7 linked regions of the Homo sapiens genome follow. The main gene of each other region encodes a partner of the protein of the gene in region 3 in a complex. Each region holds a gene or a part of one and is shown on either strand. Other genes may lie near its edges. The genes, in order: MED23, MED31, MED13, MED26, MED25, MED16 and MED4.

What was found.
Region 1: MED13 (region 3) and MED23 share a complex: the UniProt entries of both Homo sapiens proteins name them as parts of the mediator complex.
Region 2: MED13 (region 3) and MED31 share a complex: the UniProt entries of both Homo sapiens proteins name them as parts of the mediator complex.
Region 4: MED13 (region 3) and MED26 share a complex: the UniProt entries of both Homo sapiens proteins name them as parts of the mediator complex.
Region 5: MED13 (region 3) and MED25 share a complex: the UniProt entries of both Homo sapiens proteins name them as parts of the mediator complex.
Region 6: MED13 (region 3) and MED16 share a complex: the UniProt entries of both Homo sapiens proteins name them as parts of the mediator complex.
Region 7: MED13 (region 3) and MED4 share a complex: the UniProt entries of both Homo sapiens proteins name them as parts of the mediator complex.

What each region holds. Positions count from the first base shown.
Region 1 is NC_000006.12:131,621,743-131,625,242, forward strand, and holds part of MED23 (mediator of RNA polymerase II transcription subunit 23), read right to left. Parts: intron 3,248-3,500; coding exon 3,123-3,247; intron 1,721-3,122; coding exon 1,609-1,720; intron 238-1,608; coding exon 139-237; intron 1-138. UniProt on the Homo sapiens protein: Required for transcriptional activation subsequent to the assembly of the pre-initiation complex. Component of the Mediator complex, a coactivator involved in the regulated transcription of nearly all RNA polymerase II-dependent genes.
Region 2 is NC_000017.11:6,642,811-6,645,708, forward strand, and holds the end of MED31 (mediator of RNA polymerase II transcription subunit 31), read right to left. Parts: intron 1,850-2,898; coding exon 1,657-1,849; 3' UTR 501-1,656; downstream 1-500. Other genes in the region: TXNDC17 (thioredoxin domain-containing protein 17), read left to right, coding at 141-209. UniProt on the Homo sapiens protein: Component of the Mediator complex, a coactivator involved in the regulated transcription of nearly all RNA polymerase II-dependent genes.
Region 3 is NC_000017.11:62,055,279-62,058,778, reverse strand, and holds part of MED13 (mediator of RNA polymerase II transcription subunit 13), read left to right. Parts: intron 1-3,500. UniProt on the Homo sapiens protein: Component of the Mediator complex, a coactivator involved in the regulated transcription of nearly all RNA polymerase II-dependent genes.
Region 4 is NC_000019.10:16,621,705-16,625,204, forward strand, and holds part of MED26 (mediator of RNA polymerase II transcription subunit 26), read right to left. Parts: intron 1-3,500. UniProt on the Homo sapiens protein: Component of the Mediator complex, a coactivator involved in the regulated transcription of nearly all RNA polymerase II-dependent genes.
Region 5 is NC_000019.10:49,817,148-49,821,088, reverse strand, and holds the start of MED25 (mediator of RNA polymerase II transcription subunit 25), read right to left. Parts: upstream 2,801-3,941; 5' UTR 2,748-2,800; coding exon 2,614-2,747; intron 2,519-2,613; coding exon 2,473-2,518; intron 1,918-2,472; coding exon 1,793-1,917; intron 1-1,792. UniProt on the Homo sapiens protein: Component of the Mediator complex, a coactivator involved in the regulated transcription of nearly all RNA polymerase II-dependent genes.
Region 6 is NC_000019.10:876,188-879,687, forward strand, and holds part of MED16 (mediator of RNA polymerase II transcription subunit 16), read right to left. Parts: intron 994-3,500; coding exon 787-993; intron 1-786. UniProt on the Homo sapiens protein: Component of the Mediator complex, a coactivator involved in the regulated transcription of nearly all RNA polymerase II-dependent genes.
Region 7 is NC_000013.11:48,078,105-48,081,604, forward strand, and holds part of MED4 (mediator of RNA polymerase II transcription subunit 4), read right to left. Parts: intron 1,890-3,500; exon of another isoform or gene 1,872-1,889; coding exon 1,740-1,871; exon of another isoform or gene 1,673-1,739; intron 1-1,672. UniProt on the Homo sapiens protein: Component of the Mediator complex, a coactivator involved in the regulated transcription of nearly all RNA polymerase II-dependent genes.

The sequences.
Region 1 (3,500 bases), on a different chromosome or scaffold from region 3:
TTTAAAATAGAAGTGATTTTTTTTTGGTAGAAGAAATAGAGCATCTCACAAAATACCGTAAGTATTAAAAGCACAGACCTAAACAAAGCTAGACTTTTTTGAGGTTATGATCACGAATTTCAGACATGTCTAAATTACCTCTCTTGCTGCCAGAAGCTGCTGTACAACAGCAGAGCTCACTGTATTAGGAATTGTCAAAATCTTCTCCAAAATCACTTTTAAGAGATCTCGAACACCCTGATATAAGAAAAAAGACATGGGTTAAAATTAAGTAGTGTCTACTGTGTTAGCTAAAACGTCCGAAGGTTTCAGGGTGATATATTCCTTCAAGGTCACACCTTTAAATTTTCTGAATCAGTTACAATCTAAGTCCCTAACATTAACCCAACAGAAGAGTCATGTTCCAAAACAGAGTTCTAAAGACTGTCTTAAAATACAATGAGCAAAGAAAGTCATTATACAGTTTGTCAAGCTTTTTTGGCCCTCATAACATTAGAAGGGTTTACGTTGTTACAAGGGTCAAAAACCTTAATTATACATATAGACAGAAATATATTGTAACAAGACTTCAATGCACTCTGAAAACTTGAGTAACAATATCAAACTTTTTGGTAGAGGACTGTTTCTGCTCACTCCCTTTTGTGCTGGGATTATAGGTGTAAGCCACTGTGACTGGCCTATTCTCCCTTCTCATCCATCACATACCTTAATCTCTCAAGGATATCCAAGGCTATTCTGTTAATCATTTCCACATATCCAATACCAGTTACATTATCTGATATATAAAGAAGAAATTTCATTCAACATTTATTTATTGACTATGAACTACGTAACCAAGCTTGTAAAAGACAGAACATATACCTAAAAGAACAATTATGAAGTATCATACAAATAAGAAAATTGCATAAGTCTGAGTAAAGAGAAAATAATTAGCAAAAGCTTCTTAGAGTTAACTGTGTGATAAATCATGATTTAAACTAATAATTATCTGTTAGGTCATTACCTGTTAAATCATTTCAGATTAGAGAAAATGCAGAAATAAAGCACAGGGTCAGACACTGGTAATTCCCGGGAAAAGGACAATAACAAAAGTCTCCTGAAGATGCAGAATGGCTTTTGTAGCTATGGAGTCCCTAAGCCGTTTTATGAGACAAAACTAGAAAGTGTATGTTGTTTTTGGTCAAGAGCCCAAAGTGCTGAAGATATTAATTGAGGTAAGACCCACGTTCAAGAGAAGTGAAGCCAGGTCTTGCTCCCTTCATCAGTGATGCCTACATCCCTTCTCAGTTCCACACACCCCTGCTCTGTGCTTTCATTTGAAGGGATCATAATACTTGCAGCATGAAGGAACACGGATTCTGCTTTGTGACTTCCCTGCTCTTCATAAAAATGTATCAGCTACCTGTATTTATAAGAATGTTGGGAGGGGAGTAGCGGAGCCAGGGAAACAACTGAGTAACTTTAAATCTTTTCAGGAAATATACCACAAGAAATAGACAGATTTTGTAAATGCTTCCACATCATTTCTCTCACCTGAAAATAAGACATGCACACCGAAAAATCAATCATATCTGAAAGCAATCACTTTTTATAATAAGAAAAATATACCTTGTAATCCACTCCCCCAATTATTTTCCGAACCAGTTTAAATGTTAAGGCCCAAAGCTGTGTTCTTTCCCACTCAAGAGTGTCAGAGTTTATCAGGGATTCACAAACCAGCCTATAAAAAAAGAAATAGCCATTCCAGTTACAAGACAGAATTTTCCAAGTTCTCTAATAGCCGCCAATATGGTTTGGCTGTGTACTCACACAAATCTCATCTTGAATTGTAGTTCCCATAATCCCCACGTGTCATGAGAAAAACCATTTAAATCATGAGGGACAGTTCCCCCAATACTGTTCTCATGATAGTGAGTTAGTTCTCACAAGATCTAATGGTTTTATATGGGGATTCCCCCTTCACTGGGCACTCATTCTCTCTCCCACCACCCTGTGATGAGGTGCCTTTTGCCATTATTCTAAGTTTCCTGAGGCCTCCCTAGCCATGCCAAACTGTGAGTCAATTAAACCTCTTTCCTTTATAAGTTACCCAGTCTCGGGTATATCTTTGTTAGCAGCATCAGACAGACTAATACAGCCATAGTCTGTGCACTGTATTATATTTATCCTCACAAGTGTCTTTCATAAAAGTGATTACTAAGCACACTTATAAATCTGTGTAGTATTTTACATTTTTTACTTGTATGAAAGATCAAAAACAAAGTAAGAATGAAATAATATTCATTATGTTATATTTTACTAGAAAGAAGTCTATCTAAAGCTTTCGGTTAGATGTTTACCATCTATCACCTTGTGGTACACTGGATTTTTCCAACAGGATGGCAACAAGATTTTTGATCCCACATCTTCTTCTGAAATGTGACACTGACATTTCTCCCAAGGAGAGGTAGGGGGAAAGTCTACGTTCTCACTCCTTAGATCTGGGCAGACCTAAGACTATGGCCAAAAGGATGCAGTATGACTTCCAAGAAGACAAGGTGATACAATTTCTGCCTAGCCCTCTTTTGCACACTTGCTGTTAGGCTCCACCATGAGGTGAGAAAGTCTAGGCCACAAGGTGAGGGCCTGCGGAGGTTCTGGCTAATAATCCCAGCTGAGGTTCCAGATGACAGCCAGGAATCAACCACCAGATATCTGAGTGGGGAAGCTTTTGCCATGCTCCAGCCCTAGCCACATTGATCACAATCATTATGACCTTGAGTAAAAAGTGTCTCCTAAGCCGAGTCAACCACTAAAACCATGAATAATTTTAAAACCTGAGTATTACTGTTTTAAGCCATAAGGTGTTGAGGTTGTGCAGCAAAAGTAAAGGGTTACAAACTAATTAAAGTGATTAATTTCAGCCCCTGGGCAGAAACATCTGGTTTTGAGCCCACAAGCATTACCTAATTCAAAGACTATTACTCCTAGAAACTAAAACCTGAGGTATTATATAAAGGATTACTTGATAAACCTCACCTTCTTCTTCATTCTCTTACCTTTTTACAACAACAACCTCAACCAATTTCCAATCACATATAGAAAAGAAAATTCTTCAGATTGCTCATACCCATTAAACGTACCTGGGTGGAAGGAGACCAGTCTCAACTGCCATTGCTAAGCAGTCATAAAGAAAAGAAATTCTTTTAGGACTATGCTGACCATGAATAAACTTAACAATCCACTGGATACACTGTTCATGAGACTCCTGGAAAATGAGAGAATGATTTTACTTGGGGTCTAAAGTTACATTTTTATAACCAATAGCTAATACTACAACTGGAAGTATACCAATACTATGAAAGAAATACTTCACTATGAGCATCTGTGGATGAAAATAATTTTTAAAAAAAGCAAAATTAAAAAATTCAGATTTAGTATTTGTCACATTAAGCTTAACATTTTGTAATTACATAGATAAAATGCTACCATTTTTATTACATGGGAACTTCAAAAGTAGT
Region 2 (2,898 bases), about 55 Mb from region 3:
AAACTTGTTATAACTAGATGATAGTTTCTGAATTGCGTAATTTCTGTGTTCAAAGATGAGTGTCATTCAAGGCAGAACTCATTCCACTCCTAATAACGTTTTATAGAAGTAGTGAAGATTTGACTGTTTTTCTCTTACAGCCTCAAAAACTGGTAGAATCTGAGTGTCTTCAGGCCAACCTGGTGGAAATGTTGTTCTCTGAAGATTAAGATTTTAGGATGGCAATCATGTCTTGATGTCCTGATTTGTTCTAGTATCAATAAACTGTATACTTGCTTTGAATTCATGTTAGCAATAAATGATGTTAAAAAAACTGGCATGTGTCTAAACAATAGAGTGCTATTAAAATGCCCATGAACCTTTAGTTTGCCTGTAATACATGGATATTTTTAAGATATAAAGAAGTCTTCAGAAATAGCAGTAAAGGCTCAAAGGAACGTATTCTTGAAGGTGACGGAAATACCTAAAAACTCCTAAAGGTGCAGAGCACACCTTCCAAATCTCTCAAAAGATCAGTATCTTTTATTTTAAGTTATCTCCATCTGCAAAGCAACTGATGATATTCCTGAAACCCCTTCTTTGATTTTGGAATGTAGAACCTAACCTCACCACTGAAGGAAAGCACATGACCTCTAATCTAGCCTCTGCTTAATTCAGGCAGTTTTGTTTTGTTTAATAAAAAACAGACTCCTGAGCACTAGAAGCAGTTTGTTTTGCAGCTGTCTCAATGTGCTTTACTTGGGATGAGGCAGGTGGCGGAGAGCGGCCGGAAAGACTCTATAACCCAGTTCTGGGAAGAACTCCAAGCTGGGAGTCAGTCACACTGACTCTACCACTTACTAGCTGTGTAACCACAGGCAAGTTACTCACCCCGTCCAAACCTCAGTTTTCTCTTCTATAAACAAGGTTCTTAGAATAAAATGAGAATTCAAGGAAGCACTTAACATAGCACCTGGTTTGTGGTACCTCCCAAATCAATGGTAGCTTTCCCAAATGAACACAAGTATTTGAGGCTCCTCATGTTTGTTCTAAAGTCAAGAGTCCAGTTAGTAACTAACCACTAGTTGTCCTGCCATGACTAGGTCAAGTGAGGCCACAGTGATTCAGTGATTCTTAAAGCCACCTTGCAAAGCAGGTAATACAGTTATTTCCTGTCCTGCAGAATTCAAGAACCTTTATGCAGTTCCTGTCCTATGATTTAAAGAGGTCAGTGACTCCGCTACTCTCACTACATCTTAGAGTAGAGTGGTAGAGTAGTTGATCTGAGACAGTAAGGTTCCAGGAGATGGTCTTGCCCTACTATATGTCAGGAACAGCTAGCCTTAGAATTCAGTATACTTGGTGGCCCACCCCTACCCCATGCCCCAGTGCCTTATTTGGTCTAAAGCACCTAACTTTTCCATTCTTAATCAGCTGATTATGCTAAATGCGTAAAAAAGAAAAACACCTTACAAATCCACAGGGAAATCAAAGAACAATTCAGGTTTAACAGAAATAGTCTATTAACAATAAAAAGTTGGATGAAAAAGCACACTAAAGGTTCTAGGGGCTACCATAATAAAGGTAGATAGGAAGAGTTTTCATTTTTTTTGTCTTCACTGTACAAAAGAAATACATTATATACATGTATTAAGTGCCTCGTTTGTATCCAGTTTTTCATTTTCCCGATGTGTTATTTTGCTGTTGCTGCTCTGCCAAGGCTTGCTGAAGGCGCATCCGCTTCCGGGAATAGTGCTGCCAATGTAGAATCTGCTGTTCATCAATAAATTTCGCACACTGAGCATTCACCAGCTCCTTTCGGAAGTGTTCATATTGGAGCAGCTCTAACATGTGTAAACACTGAGGGTACCTGGGTTTAAGTTTGTAAGTGAATGAACAACATAATTTAGGTAAATAATGCCAAGGTATAATTCAGTTATTCTCTTAAAAACGATCTTGTAGCCTACCATTTCTATAACAGTAACTTAGTACACTCTGGTAGCATAGGGTTTTTTCCCCGATTAGTCATCAAAGGTCAGTGTTCAATATTTTCGAAAATGAGAAGGTTTAAGTTCAGAAAGATTAAATTAACTTGCTCAAGACCACACAACACAGTAACTGGTAAGCAGAGTGAAAATTTAGGGACAAACCATGCTATTCCCTTCTAGCGGTTTCCAACGTGAAGAACATGAACATATTTTAGTAATTATGTGTTTAATTGATAGTTACTCATTTTTCCTTCAATAGGGATAAAAAGACAACTTTCATTTAAAAGTGAGTGTGAAAGAGGACTATGCGCATACATTGTACTCTTGTTGTCCACAGGGATATACCAATTCTGAAATTAGATATACTCTAGGATTGGACAAGCAAATATACTGTGGATAAGGACAGCCAAATTTCTGGCTATCAGAAAAGGAGTTATAGACATGGAAAGGAAAAAGGCTAGAATGAACCCTGTGTTACTGAGCTGGTATTGAAAACATCAGTATGTACTTACGGCTTTTAATATAGACATAGAATAAACATGTATATGTGTGTGCATGTATACACATACATACATATATATATAGTTCTTGAGCTTTGTGTACTGACAGGGCCTAGAAGCAATGACACTGTGGTACTAATGAACACACAATGACCAGACTGTGGTTTCCAAGGAGCAGGTTTCCTTGGAGAAAAGGGTGATTCAGGGATAAGACAGGAAAAGTACAAGATGAGCCTGGAACATTACGTAGTGCCAGAAGAAAAAGTGCTAAAAATTCCTGGGAGGATCAAAAGTATTCAGGAGCCAACTTGAAGGGCCTCCCAATGGCCAAATCTGGAATACTTAGCGCAAGAAAATACATAATTCTAATTCATAATTCTACTAAAAATAAGAATCCAAAAGTCCACACTAAATGGATGTAAATTTCTTTA
Region 3 (3,500 bases):
ATGATTTTTGGATCAGGATTTGTGCTAACTAGTATTAGCCAAACTATAACATTCCAGAAGGTTATTTGTTCAAAAAATCTCTTGAATTCCAAAGCCAAACATAGATGATTTTCTTACTTTTTGCTTTATCCTCTATAGGATAATGATTAGTTGAATCGGGGTCGATATGTTTTGATACAAAAAGGATTAGGGAATAAAACTCCTTTGGGGTTACAGCTTTTTTCTTTCTTTCTTTCTTTTTTTTTTTTTTTTTTTTTTGAGATGAAGTCTCGCTCTGTCTCCCAGGCTGGAGTGTAGTGGGGCGATCTTGGCTCACTGCGACCTCCGCCTCCCAGGTTCAAGCGATCCTTCTGCCTCAGCCTCCCGAGTAGTTGGGACTACAGGCATGTGTCATCACGCCTGGCTAATTTTTGTATTTTTGGTAGAGATTTTAATAGGAGTTTCGCCATGTTGGCCAGGCTGGTCTGGAACTCCTGGCCTCAGGTGATCTGCCCGCCTCAGCCTCCCCAAGTGCTGGGATTACAGGCATGAGCCACCATGCCTGGCCCCTTTTTTTTAAAAATTGTATTTTGTAGCTTTGTTTAGTGGTTGTGTGATAGTGGGTGAAAGAGGTATAAAATGGGTGATGGGAAAATCTTAGCTCAGTCCCTCTGGTCAAGAATCTCTGTGGTGGGTAGGACTGGTACTTTTAAGTGTACTGTTAATTTGCTTCAGAGCAAGATTGTATCATTTTCATTAATGTGGTCTTGAAGGAGAGTTTTCTGTGTATTTTTATTCTGTGTTCTAACATTTTTGGAATTCAATTGCTGTCATCATTGGCTTTTATTCTTTCCCTTTAAATAAAAATAAAAGCAAACACTGCGTCCTCTCCCATTTGTCATCTTAAAAAAATCATAGCAAGTTAGACTGTGATGAGACTCTTTGAGAAAACTGATACCTTGTGAACTAAAAAAACTCAGGGCTAAAAATATTTGTTCTTTTTCCTGGCTCCTGAGGTCTGTAAAGTAGATTTTAGTAACATGTTCAGATAGTTTTATTATACCAGAATTTTATCATAATGAATAGTGCTCAAACTAAGTGGACTATTGTTCTGAATTTAATTTTGGATGTTTTAATTGAAGGATATTAACTGTAGTGGACTTTAACCTTAAATGACAGCTGTTAATAGGATTGACAGATAGATAAACAGCCAGGCATAGGAATCTAGTCCCAGCCAAACTAAAACATTGTTGTGTGCCCCACATAGTCTAAAGAGAGTAATTTATTTCTACTATTGTAAAATTTACTTGTGATGTGGCCCGACTCTTTAAATTGGCTAGTCTCCTAGGTGACAACTTCATTTGCTGTATTTCTTCTGCATACTGTTTTTTTGATCAAGTGTATCTTCTAAGTTTTCAAGCCAAACATAACATACTAGGCTGTTTTTAAATCAGTTTTCAAGTTTTGCCATAGATAATGATGCGGCCAACTTAAGGCTCTCGGTATATTTGTTGAATGTATAGGTTATTAATGATTATTCAGGAGAAACACTGATCTAGCATTTAAACATTTCTCTTTATTTCAGGAAATACATGGTATTTTCTACCATGTTAATTTTTGAGCCATTATTCATTAGCATATGTTACATTTTAATAGTTTTGCAAAATTGTATTGGAGAAGATTCATTTTTTACCACCGTGGAGATATTTAAAGATGCCATTTTTTTGAGAAAAATGTTGAGTGCAGGGTGTGTCTGCTTTTTTGGTTGTGATTTTTTTTCCCCATTGATAGAGAATTATTTTGATGACTTATCACATACTTTGGCACTACTGTAATCTGCATCTTCAGGAAAAAAATATGGTAATCAAATTTAGCATTTGTGTTTTCTTCCAATAAATAGTCCATAAAAATTTCAAGAAACACTGATGATTAAGAACTGTAATGCTAATAGTAACAGAAAAGTACTAAGAATGCAGAGTTGAACTTTATTTTCTCTGGACATAGAGCTACAAGAGAAGGAATTTTTTTTTCTTTTTTTTGTAGGGATGGAGGTCACACTTTGTCTCACTCAGCCTGCAGTGCTTAATCATAGCTCACTGCAGCCTCCGACTCCTGGACTCAAGCAATCCTCCCACCTCAGCTTCCCCAGCAGCTGGGCCTACAGGCATTGCCACTATGCCCTACTAACTAAAAAAAGTTTTTTGGAGTCAGGGTCTTCCTGTATTGCCAGGCTAGTCTTGAACTCCTAGCTTCAAGTGATCCTTCTGTCTTAGCTTCCCAAGTAGCTGGGATTACAGGCATGAGTCATTGCACCTGGCTAGAGGAGGAAAATAGTTATATAGATTAAGCAGACTTTTTCTATTAGGCTCTGGTTAAGTTCAAAAGAGATAGGTAAAGATTTGCCATATGTTCCCTTCTCCTTCCCCTCCCTATTATAATGCTGGTGTTGAGATTCAAGAACTTGTTTCAATTAGTGTAAATAGTGCATATCACTATGCCTTGAGTGGGTTGGTTGTACCATTTCACTTTTCGTATCTGAATACAACGTGTAGAAAGTACTTTTATTACAGTTATTAGATTGTCAGGATATTAGAAACTTGGCTCAGTAGGCTTCTTGTTTCTAAGTGATTCCCAACAAAACCAAAAACCTTCAGACTTTATTGAGCGTTATTAGGACTTACTCTCGTTTTTCTCAGCAACAAAATATGAAATTATATTACTTTAGTGTAATGGTTGCTTAGTTGCTTGCCATATAGATGAGGACATACTTCAGAGATACGTTGGATTTAGAAAACCTCAACAGGTGGTCTCTACTTGTTTGTTTTATGCATAGCTCCTATTTAGTGTTAATGAGAATTGTGGGCACTGGGGACATAAGATGCCCACCCCCTCTGAAAGCATTAGAATAATGAGGGAGAAATGCTTCAAGATTAATACTGATTACTTTTCTAAACCACATTCAATATTCTTTTTTTTTTTGAGATGGAGTCTTGCTCTGTCACCAGGCTGGAGTGCAGTGGCGTGATCTCGGTTTACTGCAGCCTCTGCCACCCAGTTCAAGTGATTCTCCTGCCTCAGCCTCCCGGATAGCTGGGACTACAGGTGCATGCCATCTCGCCCAGCTAAGTTTTGTATTTTTAGTAGAGATGGGGTTTCACTATGTTGGCCAGGCTGGTCTTGAACTCCTGACCTCAGATGATCCACCTGCCTCGACCTCCCAAAGTGCTGGGATTATAGGCATGAGCCACCGCACATGGCCTCACATTAAATATTCTTAAATCATTTGACTGCAAGTTTAACTAAAATAGATTTTACAAAATAAAACCATAAAATTTTCAGAATTTCATGTGAAAATTTATAAATTGTGCTTTAGCTTTTACTATTGCAAAGGTTTTTTTTTTTGTTTTTTTGAGTCAGAGTCTCGCTATGTCGCCCACAGTGGAGTGCAGTGGTGTGATCTCAGCTCACTGCAACTCCCATCTCTTGGGCTCAGGTGATTCTCATGCCTCAGCCTCCTGAGT
Region 4 (3,500 bases), on a different chromosome or scaffold from region 3:
GGGCCTGGGTATGTCCACATAGCCATCTCACAGTGCCCCCAGACTGTGTTAAGTCAGCTCTGACAATAATCCACCACTTCCCTAAGCACATCACAGAACTCTCACCTTCCCCACCCTAGGCTTGCCTCCAAAAGCCACACAGAGCAAATCTAATCCAGAGGGTACAACAACACCCCAAATACTGAAAACCAGTGCCATGTAATGCTACCCCAAGGCCCTTCCCATTTTCTCAAGCCCAGACACCCCAACCATACCCACAGACACAGCTCGACATCTGCCTGTGCCCCATCCCACAGCAGAGAGGGAAAACTGTGCAATAATTTGCCGACTGTTCCTTCCAGCTCTGTTCCCCTCATGCCAGAGACAACGCAAGAAGAGCCTGCCTGCCTGACTACAGAACTTATTCTGAAAACCTGGATGATAGAATATACTTAAGAAAGCCATCTCATATTCTTAAGAATTCTCAACTGTTTTCAAATAAGGCACGGGGAGAACTGTTCCATTTGGACTTGAGACCTGCGGCACCATCAGGCCATCCCTGACTGCCGAGCCCACATGCCACGGCACCCCACCCAAGCTCGTTCATGACCATGCTCTATCTGCCCTCCTCCCTATGAGGCGCCAAGCCCCTTGGGCACAGGGGCTGAGCATCTTCAGGTCTGTACCCTCTACACCCAGCACACGAGCACTTGCTAATCAGTTAGTGACTGAAATGTAACTGCAGTGCCTCCCAAGGCATGGAATGTATTCAGAGAAGGCCTTTAAATACAGCATGTAGAATTATCGGTATGTCTTTCTTACTCAGGAAATGCTTCCCGGTTCAGGGAATCCCGATGGCAAATCCACACCCTGCTCTAAGAGTGAAAAGCGGCTGTTTTGGAAGGTGCTCCAAGCATGGGTGCTAGCGAGACCACACTGGAATGAAATGTGCTGCCTCTCCTTTACTCACTGTGCCACAAACTTGGCCACCCATTCTGACAACCAGCTCCTGGTCCCCAAAGGAACCAGGCAGACGTGGGACAGCCTACCACTAGGAATACAAAGGAAAAGCACAACGTGCAGTAACAAAGCACCCAGTTTCCAGAAGGAGATGATAGTGGGGAAGTGGCCAGGGGACCCCTCCCGCTGGACTGGAGTCACCTGGAGTCAGCCTGGTTAAACTAGAGCTCCATCTGAGAAGATGCTCGCAGACCCCAAAACCAAGAAAAGGAAAGCCAAGTGTCCTCCTTCACCTAAGAGACCTTGGCGCCCTTAAGCTACATGTCCTATCTTACACAGCTGCCCAGGGGCTGACGTGACCATGGTGCCTTTTTACATCTGTATCCAGAACAAAGCCCCTGACCACATGCTGGTCTTGGACAGTCCTCCAGGGCTCTGGGACCTCCAACCAGGACAACATATTCTGAGGACCACCCAGAAACCTCAGTGAGGAGAGACTGTAAAGTCCACTTTCTCCTGAGGGACAGAATGAGTCAAAGACAAGGACATACACCTGTGTCACAGGTGATACTTGCTACCTTTCCATTTCCCGAAGTCAGAGAACACCACGCTGCTCCTCTCCTGTGTCCTGGCCACAATATACAGAGTAAAGACAGGAGAGTCCCTGAATCTGGGCAATTGTGGATCAGGTGGCATTTACATGTTTGGGTTTAGGGTCCTCTACTATTTTGGATAGGGTCAGAATCAAGAGTCCTTCATTTTGCAATTTACACCATTCTGCTTTTCTGCAGAATAAATGGCATTTTAAGTTAATATCAAAAGTGCTGTAATGTTGAAGTAGAGAGCAAACTGGTCACACAGATTCATGAAAAGTTCCACATCGGTTGCTAGTTGCCACACCGTGGTCTGGCCCAGGTTTCTGTCTGTGACAGAGACCTTAAGATGTTCACGGGACAGGCTATGTCATATCACCACCCTGTTAGATGTAACATAGGTAAATCCAGCCCCAATCTGTAATCTCACATACACTTGTAGGGGACGTTACAGGATCCTCACACGTTTTCTTACCAGCTCAAAAATGCTGCCCCCTCGTGCCTCTTCCGGAGCCATCTCTCCAACTTTCAAGGCAGCGTGGTGGTGTTCAGAGTTGAAAGGACTCTAAGGACTGTCACTTAATGACTCTGGGTAAGTCCCTAACTTTGGTTCCACCACCTCCCATTAAGTCAGTAAGAAACAAAAGCATTTTATCCTCTGCTTGCCCCTGGAGACACCCACTGAGCAGCACCTATTACCTGATGCTGCTGGCTTCTGCACCTGCAAAAGGGGAGACTGGCTCCCCCACTCACAAGGCTGTTGGGGAGAAGCAGAACTCTCTGACAGGGTGCCACACAAACTAACAAAGCATACACCTTGGTTTAGAATTTTGTTAGTTGAGAAACTTCACACAATGTACCTTGCAAAGATATATTAAAAAAAAAAAACCCCTTCTAGAACAATTGACATTAGTCTCTGCTGTCCCTTCTAGGATCTGAACTTAGATCTGGAAGGAGCTTTATGGGGTGCATACACCAGTTCCCAATCCCACCCTGTGGACAAGAAATCTGCAGGCAAACCAAGGTAAGCAACATCCAACCTTCCAATTCTTAGGTGGGAAAATGATCTTTCTTGCTGTGTCTCTCTGCAGAGTGCCTCGGTCACCTCTCCCTTGGTCTCTGTTGCCTGAAGAGCTGTGAAAAAGAAAGCAGCTCCCAAGGACGTTTCCCGCTCAGAGCCTGGCAGCTGGAGGCACTGACACACGCGGCCAGGGCTAGTTCAAGTCCCTCTTTGCTGCGGGACCTTCTCAGGCCTCTCCCTGGTCTGAACACAGGGCATTCACCTGCAGCTAGCAAGCCCTGCCCTGTGCGGTTATTTTACTTGCCATGAGGATGCAGTACACCGTCTACTATTCGTCGGACCTTTCCTCTAAAAGCTAAGTTTGTTAATCATCACTTAACATCTGTGTTCCTCACAGTTCTACTGAGTAGCATCTCAAGCCACCTGTGATTCTTCCACTCTCCAAAGTTCTGCATTAGAATATTCCACGACTGAACTCTTGGGCATAAAGTGGTCACAAAGGCTTCTTGGTAAAATGGGGCTCAAATGTAGCTCCTCAGGCACAGGTCCAAGATGGATGCTAGGGTTCAGTCAGTTTAAGCAGCAGGTAGAAAGTGTGCCTAATGCTTCTGCTCTAGAGGGAGAAGACAAGACAGGAAACATCCCCAAGAAGCTTGCGTGCTGCACAGGAAGATAAAGCTCATACCTCCACAGAACGAGTGTCCCAGGCAGATGGGAACCGAATCACCTGCTGAGGAGACTGCTCACTATGACTGCTGTGCGAGAGTAAGACACAGTCCTTCACTTTACCCACAATGCAGTGAGAGTAAGCTGGAACAATCATGCACACACTGCGCTTCGGAGAGATTTTCAACACCCTGGGCTGAAAGGGTGCACGACGAAAAGAAAAGCTCCAACTGCTCTGAAAAACTGTTAGTAGCCTTTTCAAAAGGAGAGTAGAGGATTTA
Region 5 (3,941 bases), on a different chromosome or scaffold from region 3:
GTGAGACCCTCAGCCCAACCATCCAGCCAAGCCACTCTTGTGTCCTTGACTCACAGAAACTGCGTTAGATAATAAATGTTTGCAGTATGCAGCCATTATTTGGTGGTAATCTATTATACAGCTAAGAATAAGTAATACAATGAAATACTAATACAAGTACTATCCACATCCCCACTTCACAAGTGAGATACTAGGCACAGAGGGGACAGACTCCTGGGTCTGAGAGTTAGTTCTGTGCTGGAAGAGCCAGGATTTAACCCGTCTGCCTGACTCCAGACTCTACAATGTCAACTATCAAAATCCGATCCAGCGCCAGGCGTGGTGGTGAGGCAGGAAATTAAAGAAAAAAAATTAAAAAGAGAAATAAGTTCTATGTATTAGGCTGACTTGTCTGAGAGGCAGCAATGGGCACAGCCCAGACCCAGGAAAAGTCTTGATAATACTATCTAAAGTGCTCTTGGAGACTCTCCCAGCACTCCCTCAACATAGAGAGAAGAAAAAACAAATTTTCCTTTGTTTTATGGAATGAGTTTATAGATTCCTGTTCTCTGTAACTCATGACTTCAAGTATTCTGTTTTATCTAAGAAGTACAGCGAAGGTCATGAGAAGCCTGAGCTGCCTGGGCACCACAGTGAAGGTTATGGGATAAGCCCGTGCCTAGGCTAACCTAGATAAGGGACATCTGGGTTGCATAGCAACGGTTATGTGCAATCCTGAGTTATAAACCTGTTACAACAATTTGATTAACTGTTTTTGTTCTGCCTCTGTATCCCTGCTGTCACGCCACTGTAAGCTTGCTTCAAGCTAGCCCACCCCCTTTTGTGAAGTGTGTATAAAAGTCAAGTGCTACCTTTGTTCTGGGCCGTCTTTGGACGTGAGTCGGCTTGGGCCTGAGTGCACTCAATGAAAGATTCTCCTGCTTTAACCCGAGGGCTCTCTCCTGTCGTCCTGAATCCCGCAACAGTGGCTCACCCCTATAATCCCAGCACTTTGGGAGGCTGAGGCAGGCAGATCACATGAGGTCAGGAGTTTGAGACCAGCCTGGCCAACACAGTGAAACTGTCTCTACTAAAAATACAAAAAAAAAAAAAAAAATTAGCTGGGCATAGTGGCGTGTGCCTGTAATCCCAGCTACTTGGGAGGCTGAGGCAGAAGAATCGCTTCAACCCAGGAGGTACAGGTTGCAGTGAGCCACGACTGTGCCACTGCACTACAAGCCTGGGAGACAGAGCAAGACACTGTTTCAAAAAAAAAAAAAAAAATTCTGACCCAAGCCACAGAGGGATCTATCCTGGCTCTGACCCATCCCCCTGCACTGAGGCTACAATGTACCCATCTGGAAAAGGAGGACAGGGGTAGACGGAAAAAGAGAGGACAGAAAGGGGACAATCACACAGGGAGTACAAGGTGGCTGCTGGAGCTCAGCCAGGCCTCCCTGAATGGGAAGGTTTTTCCTACTTCTAAACTGATGGCAACATTGCTGAGCACACAGAAGCCACCACAAAAGTGACTTCTGACAAAAACACAATCACCCTCAAAGTCCTTTCAATCCCTTAATGTATGAGATGTTTCCTGCAGCTCAAACCCAAGCCATCGCTCATTCACGGCCCCTCGCAGGGACCCCAACCACCCCAAGCCATTACTTATTCACAGCCCCTCACGGGGACACCAACCACCCCAAGCCATCACTTATTCACAGCCTCTCACGGGGACACCAACCACCCCAAGCCATCACTCATTCACGGCCCCTCACAGGGACCAGCAACCCACCCCAAGTGGGGGAAAGCTCACTTAATGCCATCGAGCCAGGTGACAAACTCATAGGCGCTGCTGGTGGGAGCGTGACATTGTACGTAGGACTCGGGAGCGCAGTCCACTGTGTTGAACACCACGAGGCTGTACTGGGTCCCCCCATACTGGGAGGGGAGGACAGAAAACTTTTAATCTGGGACCTCAATTCCCTTTTCCCTTAGAGAAGGAATCAGGGCTCCCAGCTTCCCGTTCCTCCAGAACCAGGAACTCCTCAGCTTCCTCCTTCCTCAGACCCAGCAATCTCGGCCCCAGCCCCTTCTCCCTCAGACCCAGGAATCCAGGCCCCCGGCCCCTCCTCCCTCAGACCCAGGAGCCCAGGCCCCAGCACCTCCTCCCTCAGACCCAGGAATCCAGGCCTCAGCTCCTCCTTTCTCAGACCCAGCAGTCCAGACGCCCAGCCCTTCCTCCCTCAGACCCAGGGATCTGGGCCCCTAGCTCCCTCCTCCCTCGGACCCAGGAATCCGGGCCCCAGCGCCTCCACCCTCAGACCCAGGAGTCCAGGCCCCCAGGCCCTCCTCCCTCAGAACAAGGAGTCCAGACCCCCAGCCCCTCCTCCCTCAAACTCAGGAGTCCAGGCCCAGCCCTTTCTCCCTCCCTCAGACCCAGGAGTCCAGGCCCCCGGCCCCTCCTCCCTCAGGCCCAGGAGTCCCTAGACTCACGTCTCCCCCGAAGTCCGTCTCAGCAGGAGGACCACCATTAAAATACCTGTGAGGGTAGGAAGTGAAAGGTCGGAGTCAGGCAAGAAACTGTGCGAAACTGAAGTGGGAGGGCGGGGTTAGAGTCGCGGAAACAGCACTCACTCGATGGCCGGGAGCAGGTAGTGCTTGCGGAGCCCCTCGAAGTAGGGTCCCAGGTTGGCCGTACCCTCAATCACAAACACCACGTCGGCCACCACGCTCCCGGCGCGGGCCGGGCCCTCGGACCCGGGGACCATACCCCGTGCGGTACCCGCCACCACCACTGCAGCCGCAGCCGACGCCGCGGAATGAGCAGAAATGCGCCTGCGCCGCGCGCGCGCTCGCGTCGGGCGGTTTAGGGCTGCTGGGAATGCTGCCATGTTTGTGCGGGGCACGCGCTGAGGCTTCGTTCTAGCTCCATCCTCCTTCGCCCCCACCGCGTGGAAGACTCAGAAAGGGCATAGTTAGCCCTTCTAGGGGCCTGATGGGTTAGACGGAATTATTGTCAAAAGCTAAATAAATTGAAAGCGGCTCAGTCAGCCGCCATCTTTGAGCGGGGCGTCCAGGTCCGCCTCTTGTCTCAAAGGGAGGGGCAGGAGACCTGGTTGCTATGCAACGCGTACGCTGCCCTTGTTTTCGTTTTTGTGTTTTGTTTTTTGTTTGTTTGTTTTTTCGAAACGGGAGTCTCGCCCTGTCGCCCAGGCTGGAGTGCAGTGGCGCGATCTCGGCTCACTACAACCTCCGCTTCCCGGGTTCAAGCGATTCTCCTGCCTCAGCCTCCCGAGTAGCTGGGATTACAGGTGCCCGCAACCACGCCCCGCTAATTTTTGTATTTTTAGTAGAGAAAGAGTTTCACCCTGTGGGCCAGGCTGTTCTCGAACTCCTGACCTCAAGTGATTCGCCCGCCTTGGCTTCCCAAAGTGCTGAGATTACAGGCGTGAGCCACCGCGCCGGGCCCGCTGCCCTTGTTTTGTAACCGTTAGATTAAGTTTCTGGTTCTGTTCTTTCGGGCGTGGGGACTAGGGGAGGGACGCGAGAAGGATCCAATCACATCGGCGGAAACGAGGTTACTAGGCGACGCTTTAAGGTCGTCCTCAACTTGGAAGGGAGGGCAGTTGTTTTCCCCCCCGAAAAGAAGCCGAACACCAAACCAAGTGCGGGTTGCTAAGCAACACCTGAGCGTTGTTTTCTGGGAGAGGAGCCAGAAACTGGCTTAGAACGTAAATACATTCCAGGTGGATTAAAAATGTAAGTGCAACAAATGAAACCCGAAAACTATCTGAAGGGAAAAAATCTTAATGACTGCCATGGAGTTTCTTAGCACTACAGCAAAGTTAGAAAACGTAGTCTTCATTAATTTTTCCCAAAAGACTGTATAAACCAAGTTGAAAAATATACGGCCAACTGGGAAAATCTTTCTAGCGTGTTTGTTGACAGAAATGTACTACGCA
Region 6 (3,500 bases), on a different chromosome or scaffold from region 3:
AACAAGTGAAGCTCAGAGGGCTGGTCCCACGTGCAGCTGCCGGCTGAGCTCGTTAGATCTGAGGTCCTTCGAGGACACTCTGGGATTGCAGGCACATAACCACACCACTGCAAGGGACCCTTCTGGCACGTGGGCCTCCGTATCCGCTCCCTCCTCTCCTTCCGACGGGCGGGTCTCTGTGTGTTCATCTTCTGACCGTGTTTGCTGAGGCCTCACACCACAGGGCCACCGGGTGTGCATCCTGGTACCCATCACATTCTGAGAGGATGGCTTAGAAAGATACCTCCAGACTGGGAACACTGGAGAGGGGAGCCGTCCAGGGGGGATCAGGCCTTACCTGTGGGGCTTAACGTGTTACAGAAGAAACTTCCCAGGTAAGGAAGGAAACTGCTTCTCTGAGGTGCAGCTTTCCTGGACGGGCCTCTGGGAGCACACCCCACACGCAGCCTCACCTGCCACAGGCTACCTGCCCCTCTTGCCCTCCGCCTGCCATAGAGCCCCCAACCTGCCGCAGGGAAACCCCTCCAGCTGCCACAACCCCCACATCTGCCGTGGGGACCTCTACAACTGCTGCAGAGACCTCCTCCACCCTCCAAGGGAACTCCCTCCCTGCTGCTGGCACTTTACTGACCACGGGGCCCCTGCCTGCCACAGGGACAGCCCCACCTGGCACGGGACCACCTGCCACGGGGCCCCCACCTGCCACGGGGCCCCACCTGCCACGGGGCCCCCACCTGCCACAGGGCCCCCACCTGCCACGGGGCCCCACCTGCCACGGGCCCCCACCTGCTGCAGGGCAGCGGTCTGGCGCGTGTACTCCTCGTGCAGCTTCTCCACCAGGCTCTGTACCATACTGGGCTGCACGTGCAGCAGGATGTCCCACCAGTCGTAGCCGGTCACCATGCAGTACTCCAGCAGGAAGAGCAGGTGCCGCAGCGCCAGCCCCACCTCCAGCGGGTGGCCCATGGAAGGTGAGAGGCGGAGCACGCTCAGCTGCCAGAGACAGAGCCCAAGGAGAGCCCGGTGAGATGGGGCTGCGCCCTCAGCCGGGAGAGGAATGGGGCCCTGGGGCTGCGGCACGTGTGTGGATCTGTGTGCGCGCACGCCCGTGTGTGGGCCTGTGTGCGCGCATGTGTCTGTAGCGTCTGTACCTTTCTGTCAGGGTCATGCACAATGCCTCTGGGAACAGGGAAGGAAACCTCCCTGAGCCCCGACTGCACTGGATGCCGAGCCAGGCTTACACTCGTCTGCTTTACCTGAGGAGTCTACCCCGTGAAAGGCGGTCCTCTCAACAGCTCCTAGTTACGAAGCTCCTAATACGTGCTGTGAGCCACCCCACTGACCTCGCTCAACAAGACGAACCCATCACACAGACAAGGCAGCGCAGGCAGGGGCTGGCGAGGGGCTTGCACCTGTGGTCCCTTCCCCCGGGGGCGCCTCCCTCTGGCACCCTCCCAGCCCCAGCCCCAGCCCCAGACCCACGTGCCCCAGCAGCTCGCCTTCCCCTGGTTGTCAATGCCCACCAGCCCCTGCCCCACGTGCCCCAGCAGCTCACCTTCCCCTGGTTGTCAATGCCCACCAGCCCCAGCCCCAGCCCCAGCCCCAGCCCCACGTGCCCCAGCAGCTCGCCTTCCCGTGGTTGTCAATGCCCACCAAGCCCAGCCCCACATGCCCCAGCAGCTCGCCTTCCCCTGGTTGTCAATGCCCACCAGCCCCAGCCCCACGTGCCCCAGCAGCTCACCTTCCCGTGGTTGTCAATGCCCACCAGCCCCAGCCCCAGCCCCAGCCCCACGTGCCCCAGCAGCTCACCTTTCCGTGGTTGTCAACGCCCACCAGCCCCAGCCCCAGCCCCACGTGCCCCAGCAGCTCGCCTTCCCCTGGCTGTCAATGCCCCCCAGCCCCAGCCCCAGCGCCACGTGCCCCAGCAACTCACCTTCCCCTGGTTGTCAATGCTCAGCAGCTCACCTTCCCGTGGTTGTCAATGCCCACCGAGCCCAGCCCCACGTGCCCCAGCAGCTCACCTTCCCCTGGTTGTCAATGCCCACCAGCCCCAGCCCCAGCCCCAGCCCCACGGGCCCCAGCAGCTCGCCTTCCCCTGGTTGTCAATGCCCACCAGCCCCAGCCCCACGTGCCCCAGCAGCTCACCTTCCCGTGGTTGTCAATGCCCACCAGCCCCAGCCCCAGCCCCAGCCCCACGTGCCCCAGCAGCTCACCTTTCCCTGGTTGTCAATGTCCACCAGCCCCAGCCCCGGCCCCGGCCCCGGCCCCACGTGCCCCAGCAGCTCACCTTCCCCTGGCTGTCAATGCCCACCAGCCCCAGCCCCACGTGCCCCAGCAGCTCACCTTCCCGTGGTTGTCAATGCCCACCAGCCCCAGCCCCAGCCCCACATGCCCCAGCAGCTCACCTTCCCGTGGTTGTCAACGCCCACCAGCCACAACCCCAGCCCCACGTGCCCCAGCAGCTCACCTTCCCCTGGTTGTCAATGCCCAACAGCCCCAACCCCACGTGCCCCAGCAGCTCGCCTTCCCCTGGTTGTCAATCCCCACCAGGGCCAGCCCCACGTGCCCCAGCAGCTCCCCTTCCCCTGGTTGTCAATGCCCACCAGCCCCAGCCCCACGTGCCCCAGCAGCTCCCCTTCCCCTGGTTGTCAATGCCCACCAGCCCCAGCCCCAGCCCCAGCCCCACGTGCCCCAGCAGCTCACCTTTCCCTGGTTGTCAATGTCCACCAGCCCCGGCCCCGGCCCCGGCCCCGGCCCCGGCCGCAGCTCCACGTGCCCCAGCAGCTCACCTTCCCCTGGCTATCAATGCCCACCAGCCCCAGCCCCAGCCCCACATGTCCCAGCAGCTCACCTTCCCCCGGTTGTCAATGCCCACCAGCCCCAGCCCCAGCCCCACGTGCCCCAGCAGCTCGCCTTCCCCTGGTTGTCAATACCCCCCAGCCCCAGCCCCAGCCCCAGCCCCACGTGCCCCAGCAGCTCGCCTTCCCCTGGTTGTCAATGCCCAGCAGCTCACCTTCCCATGGTTGTCAATGCCCACCAAGCCGAGCCCCACATGCCCCAGCAGCTCGCCTTCCTCTGGTTGTCAATGCCCAGCAGCTCACCTTCCCATGGTTGTCAATGCCCACCAAGCCCAGCCCCACGTGCCCCAGCAGCTCACCTTCCCCTGGTTGTCAATGCCCACCAGCCCCAGCCGCACATGCCCCAGCAGCTCACCTTTCCCTGGTTGTCAATGCCCACCAACCCCAGCCCCACGTGCCCCAGCAGCTCGCCTTCCCCTGGTTGTCAATGCCCACCAGCCCCAGCCCCACGTGCCCCAGCAGCTCGCCTTTCCCTGGTTGTCAATGCCTACCAGGGCCACGCCCCAGCAGCTCGCCTTCCCCTGGTTGTCAATGCCCAGCAGCTCACCTTCCCGTGGTTGTCAATGCCCCCCAAGCCCAGCCCCACGTGCCCCAGCAGCTCACGTTCCCCTGGTTGTCAATGCCCACCAGCCCCAGCCCCAC
Region 7 (3,500 bases), on a different chromosome or scaffold from region 3:
CCAAGTTACATTTAAAGTCTGTATTTCTGAAGCAAAGGGACAGAGCACATAAACAGGTATAGTTCAAGACTCAAATAAAGAAGGCAGATTTTTAAAGGGTCAAAAGAAAGAGTTATGGTATTAACTAGAAAGGTATGCCAGTTAGCCTCAAATCTACCCTTCTCTCTGGCCCCTGAAACCATTTCTCCTTTGCCAGCTGCCACAATTAAGTTTTGTCAGTAGAGGGCACAGGTGGGACTCCACTAGCAAACAAGTTTCACTTCCTGGATCAGGTGGTTTTGTCTCCTTTACTGCTGTGATGCCTGGTTGGTGTGCAGGACATTAAGTGGTGTTCACCACAGCAACTTTCGGTGGCGCCTCTAAAGGTGGTTTCCTAGCAGGTTTCACCAGAATCCCAAAGGGCAGCTTCCCAGCAAGTCTCCCTGGAACCCCAGTGGGTAATTTCCTGCTTGCCAGCTCTGGCCTCTGATGCCTCATCTAACTTCTCTGCCATGGAGTGGGCCACATTACACTGCACCCTCTCCAATGACAGCACCATGATATGAGAGTATCGGCCTTGGGATGGAGCTGGGGAAGACTGTTTTTAGGTCTGTCCCTTCCTTGGTCCAAAATGTGGCAGTGACTCCCCATATCTGTTTTTCCTGTACTTTTAAAACATGAGAAATATGAGGTGATATCCAAGGATATCACAGTTGAGTTCCCCTGGTTGTACTTTAGGTAGCTAACAAAAATGATGCATACAAAGCATTATTAATGACACAGGGACAGCCTTATGATGTAACATTAAGCAAAAAATGTATAGGGGAAAAAAGGAAACAGGCTAAAATATTTAAAGTGACTGCCTCAGAAAGGGTATATTTTTTTCCTTTTTTAAATGCCTTTTTCTACTTCCCAAATGTTCTACCACATCAAAACAAAAGTCACCTACAAACTATAAAAGATGAGGAATAATATAAAACAAATATATATAAAAATAGCACAAACCTATGAAAAACTTGAGGAAAACTGAAGCTCAGAATGAACTGGGTCTCACAGAAATACTATTTTATAAAGTTATAAAAGTTTATAAAAAGCTATTGTTATTCATTTTGTTAACTTGGGGGTTGTTCAGGAGTGTGTTCACTTTATTCCGTAAACTATCTTACTCTATTTACATAGCATGTTTCACAATTATAAAAAAGCTATGTTTAGAGCAATAATTTAAAAAGAGAGGCCAAATGCCTGAGGAAGACAGTGTAATATTTACAAATAAGAGAAAGGCAGCTTGTTCTAATTTCATACCTCCCTCAAGGAGAATCTTTAGAGCAGAATAAACCGGCAAAGAATCTAGCTATTACAATGAACTGGGTCTGAGAGGCAGGCACACTGGCTCACACCTGTAATTCCAGTACTTTGGGAGGCTGAGGCAGGTGATTGCTTGGGGTCAGGAGTTCGAGACCAGCCTGGCCAACAGAGCGAAACCCCATATCCACTAAAAATACAAAAATTAGCCAGGCCTGGTGGCACACACCTGTAATCCCAGCTACTCGGGAGGCTGAGGCACAAGAATCACTTGAACCTGGGAGCCAAGATTTCGCCAACACGCTCCAGCCTGGGTGACATAACAAGACTGTCTCAAATTTACAAAAAAAAAAAAATTGTGTCGGGAATCTCAAACTTGCTTTACCGCCAGATATTCCAACCTTGTCATCTCTGGAAAACCCTGATCTGTTTGAAAACACTCTTCGGCTTAACATTACCTGGCAATCTTCCTGCTGCAAGTGCATCTCCTGGTAAATGGCCATTCACGCCATTAGTGGAAGGATTGTTCATCTGACCCAGTAACCCACTTCTCATCTCTAAATCAGTTGGGTAGGGTCTCCGGGGGTCCCCTAAAACAATAAAGACTGCATTTAATTCAATCATATTTTAAAAAATAAGTGTTAATATGTTATTTGACATACTCATTTTCGCTGGTTCATGCTGAAAAGTTCAGGCTACATTTTCAATTTTGAAATACAGAAGTCATCTGGCCAGGTGCAGTGGCTCACGCCTGTAATCCCAGCACTTTAGGAGGACGAGGTGGGTGGATCACCTCAAGTCAGAAGTTCAAGACCAGCCTGGCCAGCATGGTGAAACCCCGTCTCTACTAAAAATAAGAAAATTAGTCAGGCGTGGTGGCACGCACCTATAATCCCAGCTACTCGGGAGGCTGAGGCAGGAGAATCGCTTGAACCCGGGAGGCAGAGGTTGCAGTGAGCTGAGATTGCACCACTGCACTCCAGCCTGGGCCACAGAGCAAGACCCTGTCTCAAAAAAAAAAAAAAAAAAAAAAGAAAGAAAGAAATATAAAAGTCACCTTATAAATTGTTATTAATAGCATATTACTTTTTAAAATACACGCATTTTAATTTCTTTTCTGAATCTTCCCAAGAATATACTATTTTCTACACTTTAAAAAAAAAGAGATGTCATTTTTTTGTAGACATTCCAGATGACAACTTAAGAAAATTATAATAATCTCAATTATTCAAACTTAACTGTATTTTCTAGCAAGAAAATGACAATGATTATGCTGCAAGGGAGAAAAAAATCATGACACTTATAAGACAGAAAGGACTGGAATGTTTAATAGAAGGACTGTCTCAATTTAAAATCTTTTTTTTTTTTTACATTTTTCATCTTTTTGTTTTACTTTTATTTTCCTCATGCCACCTTGTCTAAGATAAAACCTTTTTCTAACCAACCTCTTTGATCTTGTAATTCAGAAACTAATTCGTGTAAGTGGCAAAATAGCAGGAGCAGGTAATGTCCATCCCAAACATGAAAGCACACTAAATAGCAGTATGTGGTTGACAAAAACTTGACCAGATTTGGATTGACTTTTTGGGCACATCTCACCAACTGCAGCTTATCCATCCCCAAAATTATAGTCACCCTTAGTGCTTTCAGCATGGTAACACAGCACCTTCAGAAGTTATTTTGAAGTGGAGATAACTACTAATATTTCCCCTTCCTCCAATAAGGCTGCTACCTTACGTCTCCTGTTTTATGTTTCATCCACTGTCAATATAGTTGCAGCTTGATCCTCTCTTTTGCTGTCTAATTATCCCAGCTCTTTCCAAGCCTGTATGTTCACTGTTGGGTGCGTAGTGCTTTGTCTTTAGCATCTAAGAGAACTGGAATTGTCTTTCTCAGGCTGGAACCTTTGTGGAAATCCTAATGGCTCTAAAGAGTTTGCTTCTGGCCAGCCCTGATAAAATGGTATATAAATCCAAAGCTTTAGAAGCATCACATTATTATCTCGTACTTTAAAAAATTATCAATTTATTATTTCAAAAGACGAAAGAAACACAGTCCCTAGCAACAATGGCTTCACAGAAAACCAAATTTATAAAACCCATGGCCTATATCATTACTTATAAACCATTAAAGATGTGAAAATATGTGGCAGAGGTTTCTAAGGATAAATACATTTTAAATTAAATCTATGTCTGTACATAGTCACCTAAGAATCTTCA